Homo sapiens: one gene and its partners. The protein of the gene in region 1 interacts with the protein of each later gene in a pairwise test. Each region holds a gene or a part of one and is shown in the gene's direction. Other genes may lie near its edges.

The links.
Region 2: the proteins of FGF12 (region 1) and COIL interact in binary tests that used the Homo sapiens proteins (3 or more experiments, as listed by UniProt).
Region 3: the proteins of FGF12 (region 1) and CT45A1 interact in binary tests that used the Homo sapiens proteins (3 or more experiments, as listed by UniProt).

What each region holds. Positions count from the first base shown.
Region 1 is NC_000003.12:192,143,523-192,150,551, reverse strand, and holds part of FGF12 (fibroblast growth factor 12), read left to right. Parts: intron 1-6,424; coding exon 6,425-6,543; 3' UTR 6,544-7,029. UniProt on the Homo sapiens protein: Involved in nervous system development and function. Involved in the positive regulation of voltage-gated sodium channel activity. Promotes neuronal excitability by elevating the voltage dependence of neuronal sodium channel SCN8A fast inactivation.
Region 2 is NC_000017.11:56,944,041-56,951,069, reverse strand, and holds part of COIL (coilin), read left to right. Parts: intron 1-73; coding exon 74-1,181; intron 1,182-1,302; coding exon 1,303-1,389; intron 1,390-1,635; coding exon 1,636-1,683; intron 1,684-4,558; coding exon 4,559-4,628; intron 4,629-7,029. UniProt on the Homo sapiens protein: Component of nuclear coiled bodies, also known as Cajal bodies or CBs, which are involved in the modification and assembly of nucleoplasmic snRNPs.
Region 3 is NC_000023.11:135,716,620-135,723,648, forward strand, and holds the end of CT45A1 (cancer/testis antigen family 45 member A1), read left to right. Parts: intron 1-2,315; 5' UTR 2,316-2,321; coding exon 2,322-2,490; intron 2,491-4,408; coding exon 4,409-4,657; intron 4,658-5,038; coding exon 5,039-5,132; intron 5,133-6,356; coding exon 6,357-6,414; 3' UTR 6,415-6,609; downstream 6,610-7,029.

The sequences.
Region 1 (7,029 bases):
TGGGAAAACTGGATAGCCATATGTAGGAAGCTGAAACTGGATCCCTTCCTTACACCTTATACAAAAATCAATTCAAGATGGATTAAAGATTTAAACGTTAGACCTAAAACCATAAAAACCCTAGAAGAAAACCTAGGCATTACCATTCAGGACATAGGCATGGGCAAGGACTTCATGTCCAAAACACCAAAAGCAATGGCAACAAAAGCCAAAATTGACAAATGGGATCTAATTAAACTAAAGAGCTTCTGCACAGCAAAAGAAACTACCATCAGAGTGAACAGGCAACCTACAAAATGGGAGAAAATTTTCGCAACCTAGTCATCTGACAAAGGGCTAATATCCAGAATCTACAATGAACTCAAACAAATTTACAAGAAAAAAACAAACAACCCCATCAAAAAGTGGGCGAAGGACATGAACAGACACTTCTCAAAAGAAGACATTTATGCAGCCAAAAAACACATGAAAAAATGCTCATCATCACTGGCCATCAGAGAAATGCAAATCAAAACCACTATGAGATACCATCTCACACCAGTTAGAATGGCAATCATTAAAAAGTCAGGAGACAACAGGTGCTGGAGAGGACGTGGAGAAATAGGAACACTTTTACACTGTTGGTGGGACTGTAAACTAGTTCAACCATTGTGGAAGTCAGTGTGGCGATTCCTCAGGGATCTAGAACTGGAAATACCATTTGACCCAGCCATCCCATTACTGGGTATATACCCAAATGACTATAAATCATGCTGCTATAAAGACACATGCAGACATATGTTTATTGCGGCATTATTCACAATAGCAAAGACTTGGAACCAACCCAAATGTCCAACAATGATAGACTGGATTAAGAAAATGTGGCACATATACACCATGGAATACTATGCAGCCATAAAAAATGATGAGTTCATGTCCTTTGTAGGGACATGGATGAAATTGGAAATCATCATTCTCAGTAAACTATCGCAAGAACAAAAAACCAAACACCGCATATTCTCACTCATAGGTGGGAATTGAACAATGAGATCACATGGACACAGGAAGGGGAATATCACACTCTGGGGACTGTTGTGGGGTGGGGGGAGGGGGGAGGGATAGCATTGGGAGATATACCTAATGCTAGATGACGAGTTAGTGGGTGCAGTGCACCAGCATGGCACATGTATACATATGTATCTAACCTGCACAATGTGCACATGTACCCTAAAACTTAAAGTATAATAATAAAAAAAAGGTTCAAATGCTGCCAGTCATTCCTTACAGAGTTCACTCAGTGAGATTCAGTTTGAATGATTTTTCTTGACTATACTGACTAGTTGTATCCATATCACGTAAACCTAGACATTTTTCTACATAAAGGAATTAATAGATTTTTCTTTATACACTCATGTCGGATGGACGTTAACTCTTCATTTGCTATCATATCACTTAATTAACTAAGTATATTAACTCTTCACTTGCTATCATATTGAGCCTGATATATATGATGTTCACGGTTTAAATTTTCTGGCCTGGAATTCAGCAAGCTCTGACACAAATTAGCCTTATCCTTCTTATTCGTCATCACCTCCCTATTTTACCCAGTCCTGTAGTGTTTATTTTTGCACTTATGTCTCATCTGAATTAGGACTAGCTACATTGTACGTGCTCAGTGGCCACATATGGCTAAATGGATGCTATACTAGGCAGCACAGTCCTAGAATATTTTCATCAGATTTCTCTATCCTTTTCCTCGCCCTGTACCTCCTCAGTTATATCTCAACTCCCTCTTCCTTAATACAGTTCTAAAACTAATGTTTTTTATTATTGGGGAATTGCTGGCTCTTCCTATGCAAATGGAACACCTCTGGCTTTAATAGTCACTTCTTATACCTTATACTCAGGACAATTCAGGACAAGTTGTTTGTTTGTTTGCTTTTTAATTGTGGTAAAATATGATAATACAAAATTTACCATTTTAATCATTTTTAAGTATATGTTTCATTGCCGTTAAGTACATTGACATTGTTGTGCAAACATCACCATCATCCAACTCCAGAACTTTTTCATCTCCCCCAACTGAAACTCTGTACTCATTAAATAAGAAATCCCCATTCTTCCCCAGCCCCTGGCAAGTACAGTTCTATTTTTTGCCTCTGTGAACTTGACTACTCTGGGTATCTCACATAAGTGGAATCAATATTTGGCTCCTTGTAACTGGCTTATTTCACCTAGCAGAATTTCTTCAAGGTTCATTCATGTTGTAGTATGTGTCAGAATTTTGTTTTTTAGGCTGAATAATATTTCATTATATGTATAGGCCACATTATATTTACCCATTCATTTGTCAATGGACATTTTGGTGCTTCCATCTTTTGGCTACAGTGAATAATCCTTCTATGGACATGGATGTACAGATAGATGCTGGGGTCCCTGCTTTCATTTATTTTGAGTGTACACCTACAGTTGGAATTGCTGGATCATATGGTACATCCGTATTTAATTTTTTGAGGAATCACCATTTCATTTTCCACGGTGGCTGAGCCATTTTACATTTAAGTAGAAATGAATAGGGTTTCAATTTCTCCACATACTCACCAACTCTTGTTACTTTCTTTTTTGATTTTGTTTATAACAGCCATATGTTTTCTTTTATTACCATTTCTGAATGACTTTAGGAATATTTAGTGAAGTTAAGGCCAACTTAAATCTTGATTAACATACAGACATAAGAATTCAAACACTGATATGTCAGTCATTTTACATTGTTTGTTGGATAAATTATGGTATTTCTGATTTTATTCAAAACTCTTAACTAGGACCTTGAAACCCTAAATATTCATCCTGGCCCTGCCACTACTCACTCTCTGACTTTATGGAAGTGGCTTAATTTCTTTTATATTTAAAAAAAATGGGGGTGATAATTTCTCACCTACTATATTCACTGGGTTATAATTGTAAAATTTAGTTAATCAATTTAAAATTGCTTTGAATACTCTGAAATGATATTGAGGCTGCTATATACATCATGGTGATTTTCGTTTACGTTTTGCACATATAATGCACTTTAGAGAACACTTACGCCTTGTTTCCTTCCTTAATTTTGTTTCATTATTTACCATGTACATTCAGAATAGCAGTCATTAAGCGTTAATGCAACTATGGATGGTAGTAAGGCAGTTATATTACTGAAGGGAGGTACTTTATTCTTTCTTTGCTTTCTAATTGGATTATGGTCTTTAAATTATATTGTAATTCAGAAATTTGATTGAGACTTATTCCCCTTGATTTGTCAGCTTCTTAGATATATTACTGAATCCTAGGTCCTGTAAATAACAATGAAAATTAATGCTCAAGAAATTACATTTAATCTATTGCTTTGACCAAGGTTTTGCTCTCCGTATTTGTATTTGCATGCAGTTTCTAGAATAACTTTAGTTTGCTTTCTCTGAACATCTTTTTATTTTGGTTAACAGAAGTATAGAAATTCAAATACCTATTTGATTTATTGAGGAGGGGGGCAGTTTTCATCAGTGAACTGGAAAACCTACCTTTTACTTGTCGTTTTCTAACTGGGACATGAACTAGGTTTTCAAAACCGTTAATTTTATTACTCCATTTAGTGCAAAGATTGGGAAATTAGAAAATGAGTTGTATGAGAAAAAGAGCAAATTTTACATCTTGCTGTGGCACTGGTGACTTTTGGTCTTTTTGAAACACTGTATATTTTCAGATGTCAATTTGCAATACCGCTCAATATAAGGATGGCCAGCAGGGTTAAATTACTGGAAAAGTTATCTGCAGCAGTAATTATAACAGTAACATTGTGTGTTGACACAAATGAAGTATTTTATGTGCAAGTGAGAAATAGAAAACAAAACAAAAAAAAAGATAAAAGTCCAAGTGAATGTTTTGGGTAGAATCTGTGGCATAAAAAAACTAAAAAGGAAATTGCAACTCTAAGAAACTCAGCTTAAAAAGTGATAAAAATATACACTTTAGGCCAGGCGCGATGGCTCATGCCTGTAATCCCAGCACTTTGGGAGGTCGAGGCGGGTGGATCACGAGGTTAGGAGATCGAGACCATCCTGGCTAACACGGTGAAACCCCATCTCTGCTAAAAATACAAAAATTAGCCAGGCGTGGTGGCTGGTGCCTATAGTCCCAGCTACTTGGGAGGCTGAGACAGGAGAATGGCATGAACCCGGGAGGCGGAGTTTGCAGTGAGCCTAGATAGCACCAAAGCACTCCAGCCTGGGCTATAGAGCGAGACTCCGTCTCAAAAAAAAAAAAAAAATATACACTTTAATGAAAATTAGAAAATTTATTCCTCAAGTATCCCTGGATGAAGCTTAAGGATTTGCAGGTCAAAATATATTATTTTTGAAAAAGGAGATTTTTGTAAATTCATTGAGATTCTGATTTAGCAATCTGTGGGGTGACCTGCAGATGTGTAAGTTTTCACAGCTGATTAGGTGACAGAGTTGGGAAGAACTATTTTATGGTATCATATGAATAGTGTTCCAGCTAAATCACCTCGTTGCTTCTTGCGTTCCCCTGTGCATTGAGCAGTTTTATGTAAATGGTTGTATTTTGCACAAATAAAAAACTATGCTTTAATTTTGGAGTTTTTAATTTTTTTTATAATAGAAAGAGAGGTAAGCACCATTAGACTTAGGGAACTTCAAGATTCTGGCAAGATATTCCCTAAGGATCTTCTATTTGTTGAAACAAAAAAAGAAGAAGAAAGACAAACTTGAATGACTTACTTGTGTCATTTGAAAATTATATGATCTACTCTCTGAGCTGGTTTCCTCTGTATACTCTGTTACTTCAGCCAAGGGCATTTAGTCCTTTGGGGATGTTGGAAGAGCCATCCGTGCAGTAATTGAAATATTTTTAAATCTCATTAAAATATATGTGGCTAATTTACATAACAGCCTTAACACACATATTTTATTCATATATTTTCTGCTACTCAGAGTGTAGTCTGGGTTTTATCAGCATCAACATCACCTGAGATCTATTTAAAATGGAGACTCTCAAGCTCACTACAATCCTTCTGATTCATAATCTGCATTTTAACAATATTCCTAGGTGATTCCCATGTACGGTAACATTTAAGAAGTTCTGTAATAGAATATGTTGGAAGAAATCTGTCTCCTCATCACTGAACCAGTCTCAGGAGACTCTCACTTGTATTCTAAATTCTGTTTTAGTCTAGTTTTGGATTTAGAATACTTTCAGCCAAAACAATTTATTTCTATATTCTCTGAAGATCTGTTATTCAAAATGCTCACAAAGAAATCAGCTCCTTAATTTTCATAAACATTTTTTGGTACTTGCTCTATGCAAGGCATTTAATCTTCATAAATATGCAATTTTTCATTTATGAAAATGTGTCCAAATTAACAAGGCTAGGAGATGGCTGAGTCAGGGTGTGGATCCGGGTAGCATGGTTCGCAAATCGGTAACCACTCAAAGTTCAAGGGAGGAAGCTATTTGATGTTGGAAGTAACATTCAAATTATCAAATCTTTGTAATGATGGTTTAATAGGTGGAGATACCTGTTTGTTCCTAAGCCGAGGATAAAAGTAACTCCTGATATTTACCTGAGACATATCATATACTCTTATCTAGTCACATTTGTCTATTTCACAAGAGTGTAATGAAGCTGAATTAACGTGTTTTGTAAGAATAACTTGAATAATTTGAAAACATCGTTCTTTCTAAACAATTATCTAGGAATAGCCATGATGGCTCACAGATGACTGAACTTTACAGCCAGACAATACAATAGAGGAGAAAAGAACGGTTTATATAGATATGAACTGAAGTCTCATGCTTGCATAATCACGTTCCCTATTGATGAAAAACTACAAAGTCACGGACTGTGTTTCTTACTTTAGCTAAATGTAGGGCAGTCGGGGAAATTGCTTCATCTTTTTTCCTCTTCTCTGTCCTCCCTTATTTTTTTACATAGGATGCCCTGGAAATGGCAATAAATATTTCAGTTTGATACATTATATTTCCTATGGTAGGGTAAAGATTAGCAACATGTAAATGAATATTTTTTTACCTACCCGAATTAGACTGCAGACTAAGGACCAAAAAGCGAAATATTTCCCATGTCTCCTCTGACTCTGGATGAAAATCCTCTTTTCTAGGTTAGGAAACTGTAAAGATTCAAGCCTTATCTATGAGAGAACAGAAACAACTTACTTAAATGTCTGCAGTTCAAGAAAAGTTTAAAAGGTTGTGACTGAAAGAACTGAAAGAAAATTAAGTGTATTCACTGATTATCAAGTTAAAACTGTTTTTTTATAATGAGAAGAAGAGCTTGTGATGAGAGTGAAGAATATTGTAAAATCAAATTTGAAAAGCTTATTGAAGGAAATTTATGTCCACTGTCATAAGTAATTTTTGTTATTTTGCCTTTCAGTGTGTATGTACAGAGAACCATCGCTACATGAAATTGGAGAAAAACAAGGGCGTTCAAGGAAAAGTTCTGGAACACCAACCATGAATGGAGGCAAAGTTGTGAATCAAGATTCAACATAGCTGAGAACTCTCCCCTTCTTCCCTCTCTCATCCCTTCCCCTTCCCTTCCTTCCCATTTACCCATTTCCTTCCAGTAAATCCACCCAAGGAGAGGAAAATAAAATGACAACGCAAGACCTAGTGGCTAAGATTCTGCACTCAAAATCTTCCTTTGTGTAGGACAAGAAAATTGAACCAAAGCTTGCTTGTTGCAATGTGGTAGAAAATTCACGTGCACAAAGATTAGCACACTTAAAAGCAAAGGAAAAAATAAATCAGAACTCCATAAATATTAAATTAAACTGTATTGTTATTAGTAGAAGGCTAATTGTAATGAAGACATTAATAAAGATGAAATAAACTTATTACTTTAAAGGAAAGGATTTGGAGAATTGAACTCACAAACTGATGTTATATACTCAATAGCTTAAACTCATGATAATGCTGCGATGTGTGGTTTTGCTTGATTTTGTATTTTATTTGGGCATCTGGAATTGACACACCATT
Region 2 (7,029 bases), on another chromosome or scaffold:
CAGTATATAACTATGTCCTGGAGATGTGTTTATAAATTGCTCACTCTAGCTTTCTCTCTTGTTCTTTTGACAGAGTTAAATTAGAAGAGAGAGGAGTTGCTGAGAATTCTGTAGTCATCAGTAATGGTGACATTAATTTATCTCTTAGAAAAGCAAAGAAGCGGGCATTTCAGTTAGAGGAGGGTGAAGAAACTGAACCAGATTGCAAATATTCAAAGAAGCATTGGAAGAGTCGAGAGAACAATAACAATAATGAGAAGGTCTTGGATCTGGAACCAAAAGCTGTCACAGATCAGACTGTCAGCAAAAAAAACAAGAGAAAAAATAAAGCAACCTGTGGCACAGTGGGTGATGATAACGAAGAGGCCAAAAGAAAATCACCAAAGAAAAAGGAGAAATGTGAATATAAAAAAAAGGCTAAGAATCCCAAGTCTCCGAAAGTACAGGCAGTGAAAGACTGGGCCAATCAGAGATGTAGTTCTCCAAAAGGTTCTGCTAGAAACAGCCTTGTTAAAGCCAAAAGGAAAGGTAGTGTAAGCGTTTGCTCAAAAGAGAGTCCCAGTTCCTCCTCGGAGTCTGAATCTTGTGATGAATCTATCAGTGATGGTCCCAGCAAAGTCACTTTGGAGGCCAGAAATTCCTCAGAGAAATTACCAACTGAGTTATCAAAGGAAGAACCCTCTACCAAAAATACAACTGCAGACAAACTGGCTATAAAACTTGGCTTTAGCCTTACCCCCAGCAAGGGCAAGACCTCTGGAACAACATCTTCCAGTTCAGACTCTAGTGCAGAGTCAGACGACCAATGCTTGATGTCATCGAGCACCCCGGAGTGTGCTGCGGGTTTCTTAAAGACAGTAGGCCTTTTTGCAGGAAGAGGTCGTCCAGGCCCAGGGCTGTCATCACAGACTGCAGGTGCTGCTGGATGGAGGCGTTCTGGCTCAAATGGTGGTGGACAGGCTCCTGGTGCTTCTCCCAGTGTGTCTCTCCCTGCTAGTTTAGGAAGAGGATGGGGTAGAGAAGAGAACCTTTTTTCTTGGAAGGGAGCTAAGGGACGGGGCATGCGGGGGAGAGGTCGAGGACGAGGGCATCCTGTTTCCTGTGTTGTAAATAGAAGCACTGACAACCAGAGGCAACAGCAATTAAATGACGTGGTAAAAAATTCATCTACTATTATCCAGGTAAGTATTATTTTTTGTAAGTTATCTCCTCCCTTTCCCCTTAGAATGTGTGTGGAGTTCATGTCATGGATTCACATTTTCTCACCAGTGATGATGTCACATGACTAACACTGTTTTTCAGAATCCAGTAGAGACACCCAAGAAGGACTATAGTCTGTTACCACTGTTAGCAGCTGCCCCTCAAGTTGGAGAAAAGATTGCATTTAAGGTATATTTCAAAAGAACAGTCACAGCAAAAAAGGTTCATTCCCCTTCCAAATAAACTTACTTAGAAAATCAGGTTAAATGTGTTTGTAAAAGCCCTTCCCACTGGAACCCCAGTGTTGTTACGGGTTCCTGGTAGGGCTCCCAGACTGGTCGGGGTGGACACGCCAACATGGCATGATGGAGGAGCTGTGGGAATGGGAGAGGATAAGAGGGCTTATGTATTTGTGGGTTTTTTCTTCTTTTTTAGCTTTTGGAGCTAACATCCAGTTACTCTCCTGATGTCTCTGACTACAAGGTAAGGATGTTTATTTAAAAGTAAGTTGTCAGTGTATTATTAAAACTAAAGTCATATTTAATACTACTTGTATGGATAATACAGATTTGTTTTTTTACTAAATAAAAATGCCAGAAAGTAGAAAATGAAAACATTAATCGAAATGTCAACTCTTTAATAGTATCACTGGGAAGTCTCCCTGTGTTATTTGCCTTATACTTGGGAAGAATAGAGTAGGAGAATGATGAGCTTAATTTTTACTTTTTTAAAAAAAATATATTAATTTTTTGTTTTTAAATAGCGACAGGATCTTGCTATGTTGCCCAGGTTGGTCTCAAACTCCTTGGCTCAAGCAATCCCCCCATCTTGGCTTCCCAAAGTGTTGGGATTACAGGTGTGAGCCACTATGCCCAGCCAGTTTAATTTTTTTAGTTACTTTTTTCTAATTAGTTTAGACCAACTTATTTGGGTATTCATTCCTTCATGATTCTAAACTTTGAAAGAAAATAATAAATAGTTCTCAGCAAGAAGATTTGATTATTTTCATCATGGGAATCTATTTTACATATTTGTGAATTACTTCTGGTTGTTATGATCTAGTATGATTTCTTCTGCATTATCAGGTAACCACAGGTAATTCATAAATATTATCCGTGGAATTTACTTACTTAATATCTGTATGAGTCTTTATATTGGCATGTGAGGTTTTTCATAGTTCAGTAAAAGCTTGACTCAGTCAGAGGGATCACAGAATTACATGTTTCTTTTTCACCCACCAACATTTTGTTGAAAATCTTGTTAAAGTGCATTCTTTCTTTTTTTTGATGTACTATATGGAATGTAAGACCATTTTTTAAGGTAATAATTGGTAGTGTTAATATAGTAACATAGATAAAATACAAGGGAATTTGATTTAATCTGGATTGATGCCTTGGAAGACTTAAAATCTTTATAGAAACCTTTCCTCAAGGCTGGGCTTGGTGGCTCCCACCTGTAATCCCAGCACTTTGGGAGGCCAAGGTGGGTGGATCACGAGATCAGGAGATTGAGACCATCCTGGCTAACACAGTGAAACCCCGTCTCTAGTAAAAATACAAAAAAAAAAATTAGCGGGGCATGGTGGCGGGTGCCTGTAGTCCCAGCTACTCAGGAGGCTGAGGCAGGAGAATGGCGTGAACCCGGGAGGCAGAGCTTGCAGTTAGCTGAGATCACACCACTGCACTCCAGCCTGGGTAACAGAGCGAGACTCCATCTCAAAAAAAAAAAAAAAAAAAATCTTTCCTCAAAAGCAGGCTGGAAGAATCAGTTAATGAAGGGATCTGGTGGGTTAGTTCTAGGTCGTTGGTGTTTTGTTTTTTATCTTCTTAGGCACTTACTATCTCCTATGGATGAGGTGATCATGTAATTTATCACCTGAATCAGGATACTTGTGAGTCAAAGGGATGCTATTAATAGTTATGCTGGAAAGATGTACAGACCTGTCTTGAACAAACCAGGGTGTTTTGTCACCCTACCATAGAAAACATTTAATTGTGTGATATATGAGGAAATGGAAATGAATATTGTATTGATACATCCCACAACCTCTATAAATTGTAATTCTAGATGATACTGATTTTTAAAAATTGCTTATTAATGGCCAGGCACAGTGGCTCATGCCTGTAATCCCAGCACTTTGGGAGGCCAAGGTAGGTGAATCACTTGAGGTCAGGAGTTCGAGACCAGCCTGGCCAACATGGCAAAACCCCATCTCTACTAAAAATATAAAAATGAGCCTGGCATGGTGGCGTGCACCTGTAGCCCCAGCTACTCAGGAGACTGAGGCACAAGAATCACTTGAACGCAGTAGGTGGGGGTTGCAGTGAGCTGAGATCATGCCACTGCACTCCAGCCTGGGTGACAAAACGAGACTCTTAAAAAAAATTGCATATTAAATTGGTATTAGTTGTCATAGTTATTAATGTTGGAAGGTGTTTTGCCTACTTTAGTTGGCAAAATTTTTTGAAGATTTTTGAAATTGCTTTCAAAAACATTTTAAGAATGAAAATTGGTCCTACTTTTTTGCTTTGACCTCAAACGCAGTTATCCAGCTTGATCATCTGCTTTATTCATTAACCTTGTCTCCAAAAATTAAATTGGTTCAATTCTGTACTAAAAAATGTAGTCTCCCAAGCCCCTGATTCCCTGTTGAGTCTGGTTTTAAAAAAAACTGTTGACTGTGCTCAGAAATTCCAGGTAGAGGCAGGAGGAACTGGTTGCTTGGCCTCTCAGTATATACCCCCGGAGGCTACCATGTGTCTCCCCATCGCCCACGTGCATGGGCAGTGCATCCTCTTGATGCATTAGAAAATCAGCTCCCACAGCTGGAGACCTGGGAGAAGGAGAATTGGGATCTTAACAGTGATAAAGTGCCTTCTGGTTTCTCCTGGGGGGTTGTGATCACTGTTTTAGAAGGGTTCTAAAAGCATCAGGAACCGAGGCTGCACCATTAGGATATATCTAGTCTCTCCTGATGAATGCTGTGATGGTCAGTGCTCACTTGAATATATCAGCCTGGTGTGATTTTTTTCTCCTTTTCCCTTATTCAGTCACTTTTGGTTCCCTGGTGTAATCTTTACTTTCATCGAGTTATTTAAGATAGTGTCTGCCATTTATGATTTAAATGTTTTATTTTGCCTCTAAAGATATTTCTGTATATTCACATAAAGTGTTTATCAGTCCACCTGTTTTTATTTTCTCTATATGTGGATTTATTTCTAAATTTTTCAACTGAGATAAAATTCACATAACATAAAATTCAACATTTTAACCATTTTAAAGTCTACAATTCAGTGGTTTTTAGTATATTCACAGTGTTTTACATGTTGATTTTGACTTGGACTTTTATTTTTGAAAGGAAGGAAGAATATTAAGCCACAATCCAGAGACCCAGCAAGTAGATATAGAAATTCTTTCATCCTTACCTGGTGAGTCTTTTAGAAAATAATTTGAAAATGTAGGCTCTATCTACAGTGGTTTATAAATAGCTTTTATACACAGGAGATGTTCTCTTCCTTGGCCTCCATATAACTGGCGCTCCCCACTTCTTTCAGCACACTTTAGCCCTGGGGGCTCATAAGAGATGTTGGATATATTCCAAAGCTGTTGGGCTAGTTCTTATTACTGTAATTATATAATTTCATAAAAGATTATATGAACTGATGAAAATCGATTATAAAAAGAATTATTCCTAGGAAGCCTAAGTTGAATGCTGACTCAGGAAATGCTATGAAATTATGGATGAGTGGGTCAGCTATAAAAGATTGGGAGGAATTTTGTAAAAACTGAGGAAGATTCTGCACTTAGATTGCCTTGCAAATTTTTGCAATCTTGCCTTATTTAAGAAAAACCCAGGCTGGGCACGGTGGCTCACACCTGTAATCCCTGCACTTTGGGAGGCCAAGGTTGGTGGATCACTTGAGGTCAGGAGTTTGAGACCATCCTGGCCAACATGGTGAAACCCTGTCTCTACTAAAAATACAAAAATTAGCCGGGCGTCATGGCACACGCCTGTAATCCCACCTACTGGAAAGGTTGAGGCAGGAGAATCGCTTGAACCCGGGAGGTGGAGGTTGCAGTGAGCCGAGATAGTGCAACTGCCTTCCAGACTGAGTGACAGAGCAAGACTTAGTCTCAAAAAATATTTTAAAAACCCCCAAACTGTAAATTGTGGAAATTGCAGACAATACAATGGTATGGTTTATTAAAAAAAGAGCTCTATTCAGTGAACTCATAAGACCTACTCAGCTCTATTTCAAAAGATTGTCAAATGAATATACTTTTGTATATTAAGTCAAAACAAAATGTCTGAAGTGTGTGTATACATACACTTTCACATATCATTTTAAATGGTTGCTGGATTTATCTCTGATGAACCCCACCTGGTACTGGAACTGAATGCGTGGAATAAGAGGGCTTTTATAATATGTAGCTTAACTTGGGGTGTACTGTAGGGGTCCCTGGCCAGAGGGCAGGGGAGATTCCTTTTCCTTTAGAAGATCCTAAAGCAATTAATTGTTTTCCTTTTTTTTTTGACAGAGTCTCACTCTATCGCCCAGGCTGGAGTGTGGTGGCACAATCTTGGCTCACTGCAGCCTCCGCCTCCCAGGTTCAAGTGATTCTCATGCCTCAGCTTGCAGAGTAGTTGGGACTACAGGCACACACCACCATGTCCAGCTAATTTTTGTATTTTTAGTAGAGATGGATTTTGACATGTTGGCCAGGTTGGTCTTGAATTCTTGGCCTCAAGCAATCCACCTGCCTTGGCCTCCCAAAGTGCTGAGACTACAGGTGTGAGCCACTGTGCCCAGCCTGTTTTCTGTTTGTTTGTTTGTTTGTTTGTTTGTTTATTTTTGAGACGGAGTGTTGCTGTCGCCCAGGCTGGAGTGCAGTGGCGCTATCTTGGCTCACTGCAAGCTCTGCCTCCCAGGTTCGCACCATCCTCCTGCCTCAGCCTCCCGAGTAGCTGGAACTACAGGCGCTGGCCGCCATGCCCGGCTAATTTTTTGTATTTTTAGTAGAGACGGGGTTTTACCATGTTAGCCAGGATGGTCTCGATCTCCTGACCTCGTGATCCACCCACCTTGGCCTCCCAAAGTGTTGAGGTTACAGGCATGAACCACCGCACCTGGCCTTCTGTTTATTTTTAGATAAGGGATTGAATAAAAGATTCAGCTAACAGAAATCAGTCGAAAGAGTTTTTGAACAAAGTTCGTTTATGATATTAAGTAAATGTTTATATATAACTTACACTGGGTTCCTACCTTTCTTTTTTTTTTGAGATGGAGTCTCACTCTGTTGTCCAGGCTGGAGTGCAGTGGGCGATCTCGGCTCAGTGCAAGCTCCGCCTCCCGGGTTCACGCCATTCTCCTGCCTCAGCCTCCCGAGCAGCTGGGACTACAGGCACCCGCCACCACACCTGGCTAATTTTTTGTATTTTTAGTAGAGATGGGGTTTCACTGTGTTAGCCAGGACGGTCTCGATCTCCTGACCTCGTGATCCTCCCACCTCAGCCTCCCAAAGTGCTGGGATTACAGGCATGAGCCACCGTGCCTGGCCAGGTTTCCAACCTTTCTTCTGATGAGATTTCATTTATAGAAATCCCCTTTCTTAGGAACGGTGGACAGAAAAGTTTGTCCACTGTCAAATTCTGTGCATACAGCCTGATCAGTGCTTGTCAGGTGATTAATAGTGATGACATCCACTTAGAACTTTTCTTCTTTAGGGCATCAAGAAATGGCTTCGGGGGCGAAGGTGGGAGGATCACTTGAGCCCAGGAGTTCAAGACCAGCCTGGGCAGCATAGTGAGACTCTGTCGTAAAAAAAAAA
Region 3 (7,029 bases), on another chromosome or scaffold:
TTCACCTCTTAATAGTGTCTTTGAGGAACAGAACTTTTCCATTTAATTATGTCTAATTAAACAATTCATTCTTTATGGTTAGTGCTTGTTTATCCTCATTAAAAACATCTTTGCCTATACTATAGTTGTGAAGACAGTATCTTAAGTGTTTACTAGATTGTCTATCCATCTTTAATAAAGTTTTGTGGAGTGGGAAGAAGTAAGAGTCAAGGTTTGTATTTTCCCTGCATTTATCAAGTGCATTTATTAAAAGCACTGTCTTTTCCACAATGATTTACAACTCTTCTGTATTTTGTATTTCCAGATTGTTTCTGGCCTCTGTGTCCTCTTCCCTTGGTGTATTTGCCTGTCATTGCTCCAGTACCACACTGTTTTAATTACTCTACCTTTATAGTAAATTTCATATATAGTAGTGCGTATCTACTAACTTAGTTCTTTTTCTTTAAAAAAAACTTTGTATTTTCCTTGGCTTAAAAAAAACTTGGCTTTTCCAAATCTTTAATTTGCATATACTTAAAAAATGATCTGCTTGTGAATTTTCAGAAAAACTTTTGTTAACATGGTGGAATTTTAAATATGATTGCTAGGATCATTCTGAGAGACTTGACAATAATGTCTTTTAATAATGTCTTTTAATAATGTCTTCCAGCCAGGCATGGTGGCTCACGCCTGTAATCCCAGCACTGTGGGAGGCCGAGGTGGGCAGATCACTTGCAGCCAGGAGTTTGAGACCAGTGTGGCTAACATAGTGAAACCCCGTCTCTACTAAAAATACAAAAATTAGCCAGGCGTTGTGGCAGGCGCCTGTAATCTCAGCTACTCGGGAGGCTGAGGCAGGAGAATTGCTTGAACTCAGGAGGTGGAGGTTGCAGTGAGCAGAGACTGTGCCACTCTACTCCAGCCTGGGCGACAGAGGGAGGCTCCGACTCAAAAAAAAAAATGATGTCTTCCATTGCATGGAAAGAATATTTTTCTCCATTTACTGCAGTCTTGAATTTCTCTGAGTGATGTTTTATAATTTTTGTGTAGTGCTGTACCACATCTTGATTAAATTTATTCCTAAATATTTGATGTTTTTGGTACTGTTTTTAATGACATTTGAAATCTCATATTCTAATTATTTGTTGCTATTAATTATACAGAAATGCCATTGGTTTTCATTATATCTAGTAAGTTGACTAAATTTGCTTATTAACTGTAATGATTTTATTCTTCTGCATTTTTCTATGTACAGAACAATGTCATCTGTGAATGACAGTTTTATTTCTTTCCAAATTTTAAACCTATTGTATTTTCCTGATGCTACAGCACTTTTTAGAACCTCCAATAGATTGTTGAATGGATAGTGGACATCTTTGTCTTGTTTTCAAACTCAGGGAGAAAATACTGATACGTCACTATGAAGTATGGCATTTAAAAATTTTTTGTACATATGCTAACCAGAATAGGAAACTTGCCCTTTTTCCTAAGTTGGTGATAGTTTTTATCACGAATGGACTTTAAACATTGACCATGTATGAAAATGATCATGTGGTGTTTCCCTGTTTGTTGCTGTTGTTGTTGTTGTTAATGTGGTGCATTACATTTATCGATTATCAAATGTTAAATCAATGTTGCCTTTCTGCAATATACTCCACCATGATGTATGTCCTTTTTAAGTACTATTGCATTTTATTTGCTCACCCTTAGTTTGGAATTTTTGTGTCTAAGTTCAGGGGTGATATTGGCTTGTATTTTTGGCTTGATCTTGTAGTTTTTCATTCTTCTAAATTCCTTGTCAGATGTTGTTATCAGTTTTGTATCAATCTTCTAATAAGAGTTCCTAATAAGGGTTAATACAGATTGGTTTATACATCTATTTGAATATATAAGTATAAATACTTATATATTAAATACATATTTTGCATAATATAATGTATAATATATAGTTTAAAATATAATGTTTAACAAGGGTTAATACAGATTGGTTTATACAGCTATTTTTCCTAATAAGGGTTAATACAGATTGGCTTATACATCTTCAAATAGGTAATAATATTTTTATCTATTTTTGGTTGATGACAGCTGCTTATTCCACAAGCATTCTGATTGATTTGGTTATACCATCTTTCTTCTGTTTTACTTTGTGTACATTAAAATTAGGTTTCTTTTCCTGAGAACAGAGTGTTTGTTGAGACTTGGTAAATCTTGGCTCATGATTAAAAGTGAAATTAATGATTCAAAGTCTTGGTTGTATACACATATGCAGATTGCTTGCCATTTTGTGATTGTTAGATTTTTGTCATGAATAGAATATATTCATTGATGTTTTTCAGGAAACAATGACCGATAAAACAGAGAAGGTGGCTGTAGATCCTGAAACTGTGTTTAAACGTCCCAGGGAATGTGACAGTCCTTCGTATCAGAAAAGGCAGAGGATGGCCCTGTTGGCAAGGAAACAAGGAGCAGGAGACAGCCTTATTGCAGGCTCTGCCATGTCCAAAGCAAAGAGTAAGTAAGCCTGTCCTCACGTCCTCCTCATGCTCCTGCCTCATCCCCTCCAGAGAAACTGTCCTTGTCAAGGTTAACAGTTTCGGCTGACATTGCCATTAACTTCTCAGCAGCATTTGACAGTTGTTCACTCGCTTCTTCATGAAAACCTTCTAGGATTTCCATTTCCGACAATCTTTTTTTTTTTTAATTTCTTGTCCGTATTGGTGAATCCCTATCATTTTTTTCTTGAGATGGACTTTCGCTCTTCTCAGCCAGGCTGGAGTGCAGTGGCGCGATCTCGGCTCACTGAAATCTCCGTCTCCTGGGTTCAAGTGATTCTTCTGCCGCAGCCTCCCGAGTAGCGGGATTACAAGCACCAGCCACCACACCCAGCTAATTTTTGTAAGTTTAGTAGAGATGGGGTTTCGCCATGTCGGCCAGGCTGGTCTGGAACTCCCCCCCTCAGGTGATCCACCCACCTCAGCCTCCCAAAGTGCTGGGATTACACGCACGAGCCACCGCCCCCGACCCCATCATTGTTTTTTTCTACATTTCTTTTTCTTCTCTTCTCTAAATACTGCAAAAAATTCCTGAACCCCAGCATCTCTCTCTCTCCTTCTATTCCACTCTGCCACGATCAATCACTGAGCTCCTGAGATACCTCCATGTTTCCCATTATTTCCCGCATCAAACACATACCCTCCAACCCTGCAGCCGGGTCATGATGTTGGCATGTAAATCACGTGATGCCATGTCGCTCCTGAACACCCATCCTCAACACTCCTAAGCACTCAGAACCGACTGCGAAGCAGCTTTGGTCTGTGAGGTTCTGCGTGGCCTGGCCTCCGTCACCCTCTCCTCACACGGGCCCCATCATCTCCTGACTCTCTCTGCTACTGTCCTTCACCCCGTAGTGCCCGGTCCATCCCCACTCCAGCCCATATCCTTGGCCTCACCGCAACCTGGAACTCCCCCTCTGCCTCTGCGCAGGCAGCTCTGCTTTCTCCTTCAAGCCCTGCCCAAGGGTACCTCCACAGAAGGCTCTGCCCAACCAGCAGCAGCTCCTGGGGCTCCCTCTGCTGCTGTTGCCCACAGGCCTGTGGACTGCTTCCTTACCACTAGCCCAACACTGTATGTTTCATTTGCTCATTGTGCACGTACTGTCTGACCGCCCCATGAGGATGTGAGCTCCAGAAGGGCAGGGAACGTTGCTCTCTGGGCTGTTTACTGCTGATCCCCAGCTACCGGCACGCTGCCTGCCACAGACGATGAATAAATGAGAGGTGTCAGACCTGGAGTGAAAAGAAAGTCACTTTTGTGAGACAGAAAGGAAGGATGAGGAAAATCATACACTAAAAGGGATTTTTTGTTGATGGAGTACATGTAGAACTTTCAGCAGTAATGGCCACCTCTATTTTCTCAGAATATGTTTGATGTAGAGAGGAGGCTGGTTGAGGTGTGTCCAAGTTGTCTGGCTTCCAGCTTAGTAAAACATGGCAGTTTGTAAGTGAATTTGAGAAATCATGATATCAAGTGAGACTTGCTGCTTTCAACTTGTAAAGCATAACAAGCTGAAACTGTCCCATGAGTACCAGGGATCTGTGAATGTTGCTTTAGAGTTGTACTGCCTTACTTGGTTTCCATGTCTATTCATAGGGCCAGAAAATAAGAGGTGGTTTTATTGTATTATGTGTCCTGGCCTCCGTTTGTCAGGCCTGGGATTTCTCCCTGGTGTATCCTCCCATTTATGAAATAAATAATTCCCTAGAAACTGAGGAGCACATAGATGTACCCAGAGGGGTGATGAAACACACATATCTCACAGCTCAGCTTCTCAGTTTGATTTCCAGAGCTGTCATTCATGAGGTCTATGTGGAGGGGAAAGAAAGTGGTCAAACACCAACTGATGGCTTTTACTCAAAATCTGTTTCACCAGAGCTTATGACAGGACATGCTATTCCACCCAGCCAATTGGATTCTCAGATTGATGACTTCACTGGTTTCAGCAAAGATAGGATGATGCAGAAACCTGGTAGCAATGCACCTGTGGGAGGAAACGTTACCAGCAGTTTCTCTGGAGATGACCTAGAATGCAGAGAAACAGCCTCCTCTCCCAAAAGCCAACGAGAAATTAATGCTGATATAAAACGTAAATTAGTGAAGGAACTCCGATGCGTTGGACAAAGTAAGTAATATAAGAATGTCTGTTTTATAAAACTATAGGAAGTCTCTCTTTCTATGATTCAGAAGATATTCATGTTGCCTGTTGAGTTTCATTCTTTGCCAGAGTTGAGATTGCACATAATTTATGGTGGTTCCTCTTTTCTTTGACTAAAGCATGTACATTTTTTCTTTTTCTTTTCTTACTTGGTTATGGTTAAAGGAGTTACATTCGTATGTATGTGCAGGTGTCTTTTTTATTATTTAGGTTTTGTATGTGCAGGTATCTTGATTTAAGCATTTAAAACATTTCAGCCTCTGAAGCATGATTGCTGAGGTGTAGATTCACTTCTATTCTTCTTTATATTTGATAATACTGAAGTTTTTTTTTTTTCAACATCTTCAGAATATGAAAAAATCTTCGAAATGCTTGAAGGAGTGCAAGGACCTACTGCAGTCAGGAAGCGATTTTTTGAATCCATCATCAAGGAAGCAGCAAGGTGGGTAGAAATAGGAACTGTCCAATTTCTTTAAGCACTTGGGCTCAATAGAGCACTGGGGGTGAGCGTTGGGGAACAGCCCCTGCCTTGCGTTTCTCAAACCCTGGTCCTCACTCACAGTTACGGCTGTCTCCACAGTTACTTAGGCTAATGTTATCTGAGTGTAACTCATTCTTCGAAGACTATGGAGACTTCCATTTTCACCATAGTCTGAGGTGCGCATTGTCCCTCAATTGACACTCTTTGTATTTGCTAGACTACCTCTTTTTAAAAAATTTGTGTAGGCACATAGCAGATGCATATATTTCTGGGCTATATGAGATATTGTGATACAGACAACAATGTGTAATAATCACATCAAGGTAAGTGGGGTTTCTATCACCTCAAGCTTTTATCCTTTGCGTTACAGAGAATACAATTATACTCTTCATTATTTTTAAATGTGCAATTAAATTATTACCGACTATAGTCACCCTGTTTGGCTATGAAATACGACATCTTATTTATTCCATACTTCTACGTATTAATCATCCCCACTTCCCACACCCTCCACCCCCACTAACCTTTGTAGCCTCTGGTAACTGTCATTCTACTCTCTATCTCCATTAGTTCAGTTGTTTTACACTTTTACTCCCAAAAATAAGTGAGAACATGTGAAGTTTGTCTTTCTGTGCCTGGCTTATTTCACTTAACATAAGGACCTTCGGTTCTATCCGTGTTGTTGCAAATGACTGAATCTCATTCTTTTTTTTATGGCTAAACAGTACTCTGTGGTGTATATGTACCATATTTTCTTTACCCATTCATGTGTTAGTGGACACTTAGGTTGCTTCCAAATCTTGGCTACTGTGGATGGTGCTGCAACAAACATGGGAGTGCAGATATCTGTTCGGTACACTGACTTCCTTTCTCTTGGGTATATACCCAGCAGTGGGATTGCTGGATCATATGATAGCTCCATTTTTAGTTGTTTGAGGAACCTCCAAACTGTTCTTCATAGTTAGTTGTTGTAGTAATTTATATTCTCACCAACAGTGTATGAAGGTTCCCTTTTCTCCACACCCTTGCCAGCATTTGTTATGCCGGCTAGACTGCCTCTTACCATGCAGATACATTTCTATTTCCATGCTGACTGTTACTTCATCTTTCTATCTGTCACAGCGCTTCCTACAGCATAGGTTCTTTGGCTATCTTTTGGTTAATGACATGTCTCTTTCTTTTCAGATGTATGAGACGAGACTTTGTTAAGCACCTTAAGAAGAAACTGAAACGTATGATTTGAGAATACTTGTCCCTGGAGGATTATCACACCCCAAATGCATAATCTCGTTAATGATTGAGGAGAGAAAAGGATCAGATTGCTGTTTTCTACAATGGAGCAGGATATTGCTGAAGTCTCCTGGCATATGTTACCGAATCAAATAGCCTTCCAGAGGCTAAGAAATTTCTGTTAGTAAAAGATGTTCTTTTTCCCAAAGCATTTTATTTGAAAGGATAACTTGTGTTTTGGTTATTTTGTATTCCCACCTGTGCTGGTAGATATTATTAACCCATTAGGTAAATACTATTACAGTCGTGGTTTCTGCAGCAGCTCACAGTGTTGTAGCTGGTATTTATCACTACGTTCTTTCGCTACCCATTTCACATTCCCTTTGCCCTGAGATAGCATGTCAGTTGGTCATGATGCTTGGCCTGGCAGGATGACTCAAACCTTCATTACGGAAGAGTCTGAACCATTAGATGTCCTGCCTGGATGGGGTTGCTGTGATCTTCCATTAACTCTAATCGAAAAACACGGGAGGACTAAGAAGCTCTCTAGACATATCACACATACTCTTCCTTAGCCCCTGGTGTAGTGGGAACCCGATCTCAATGTTGAAATCTGTATCATCAGCCT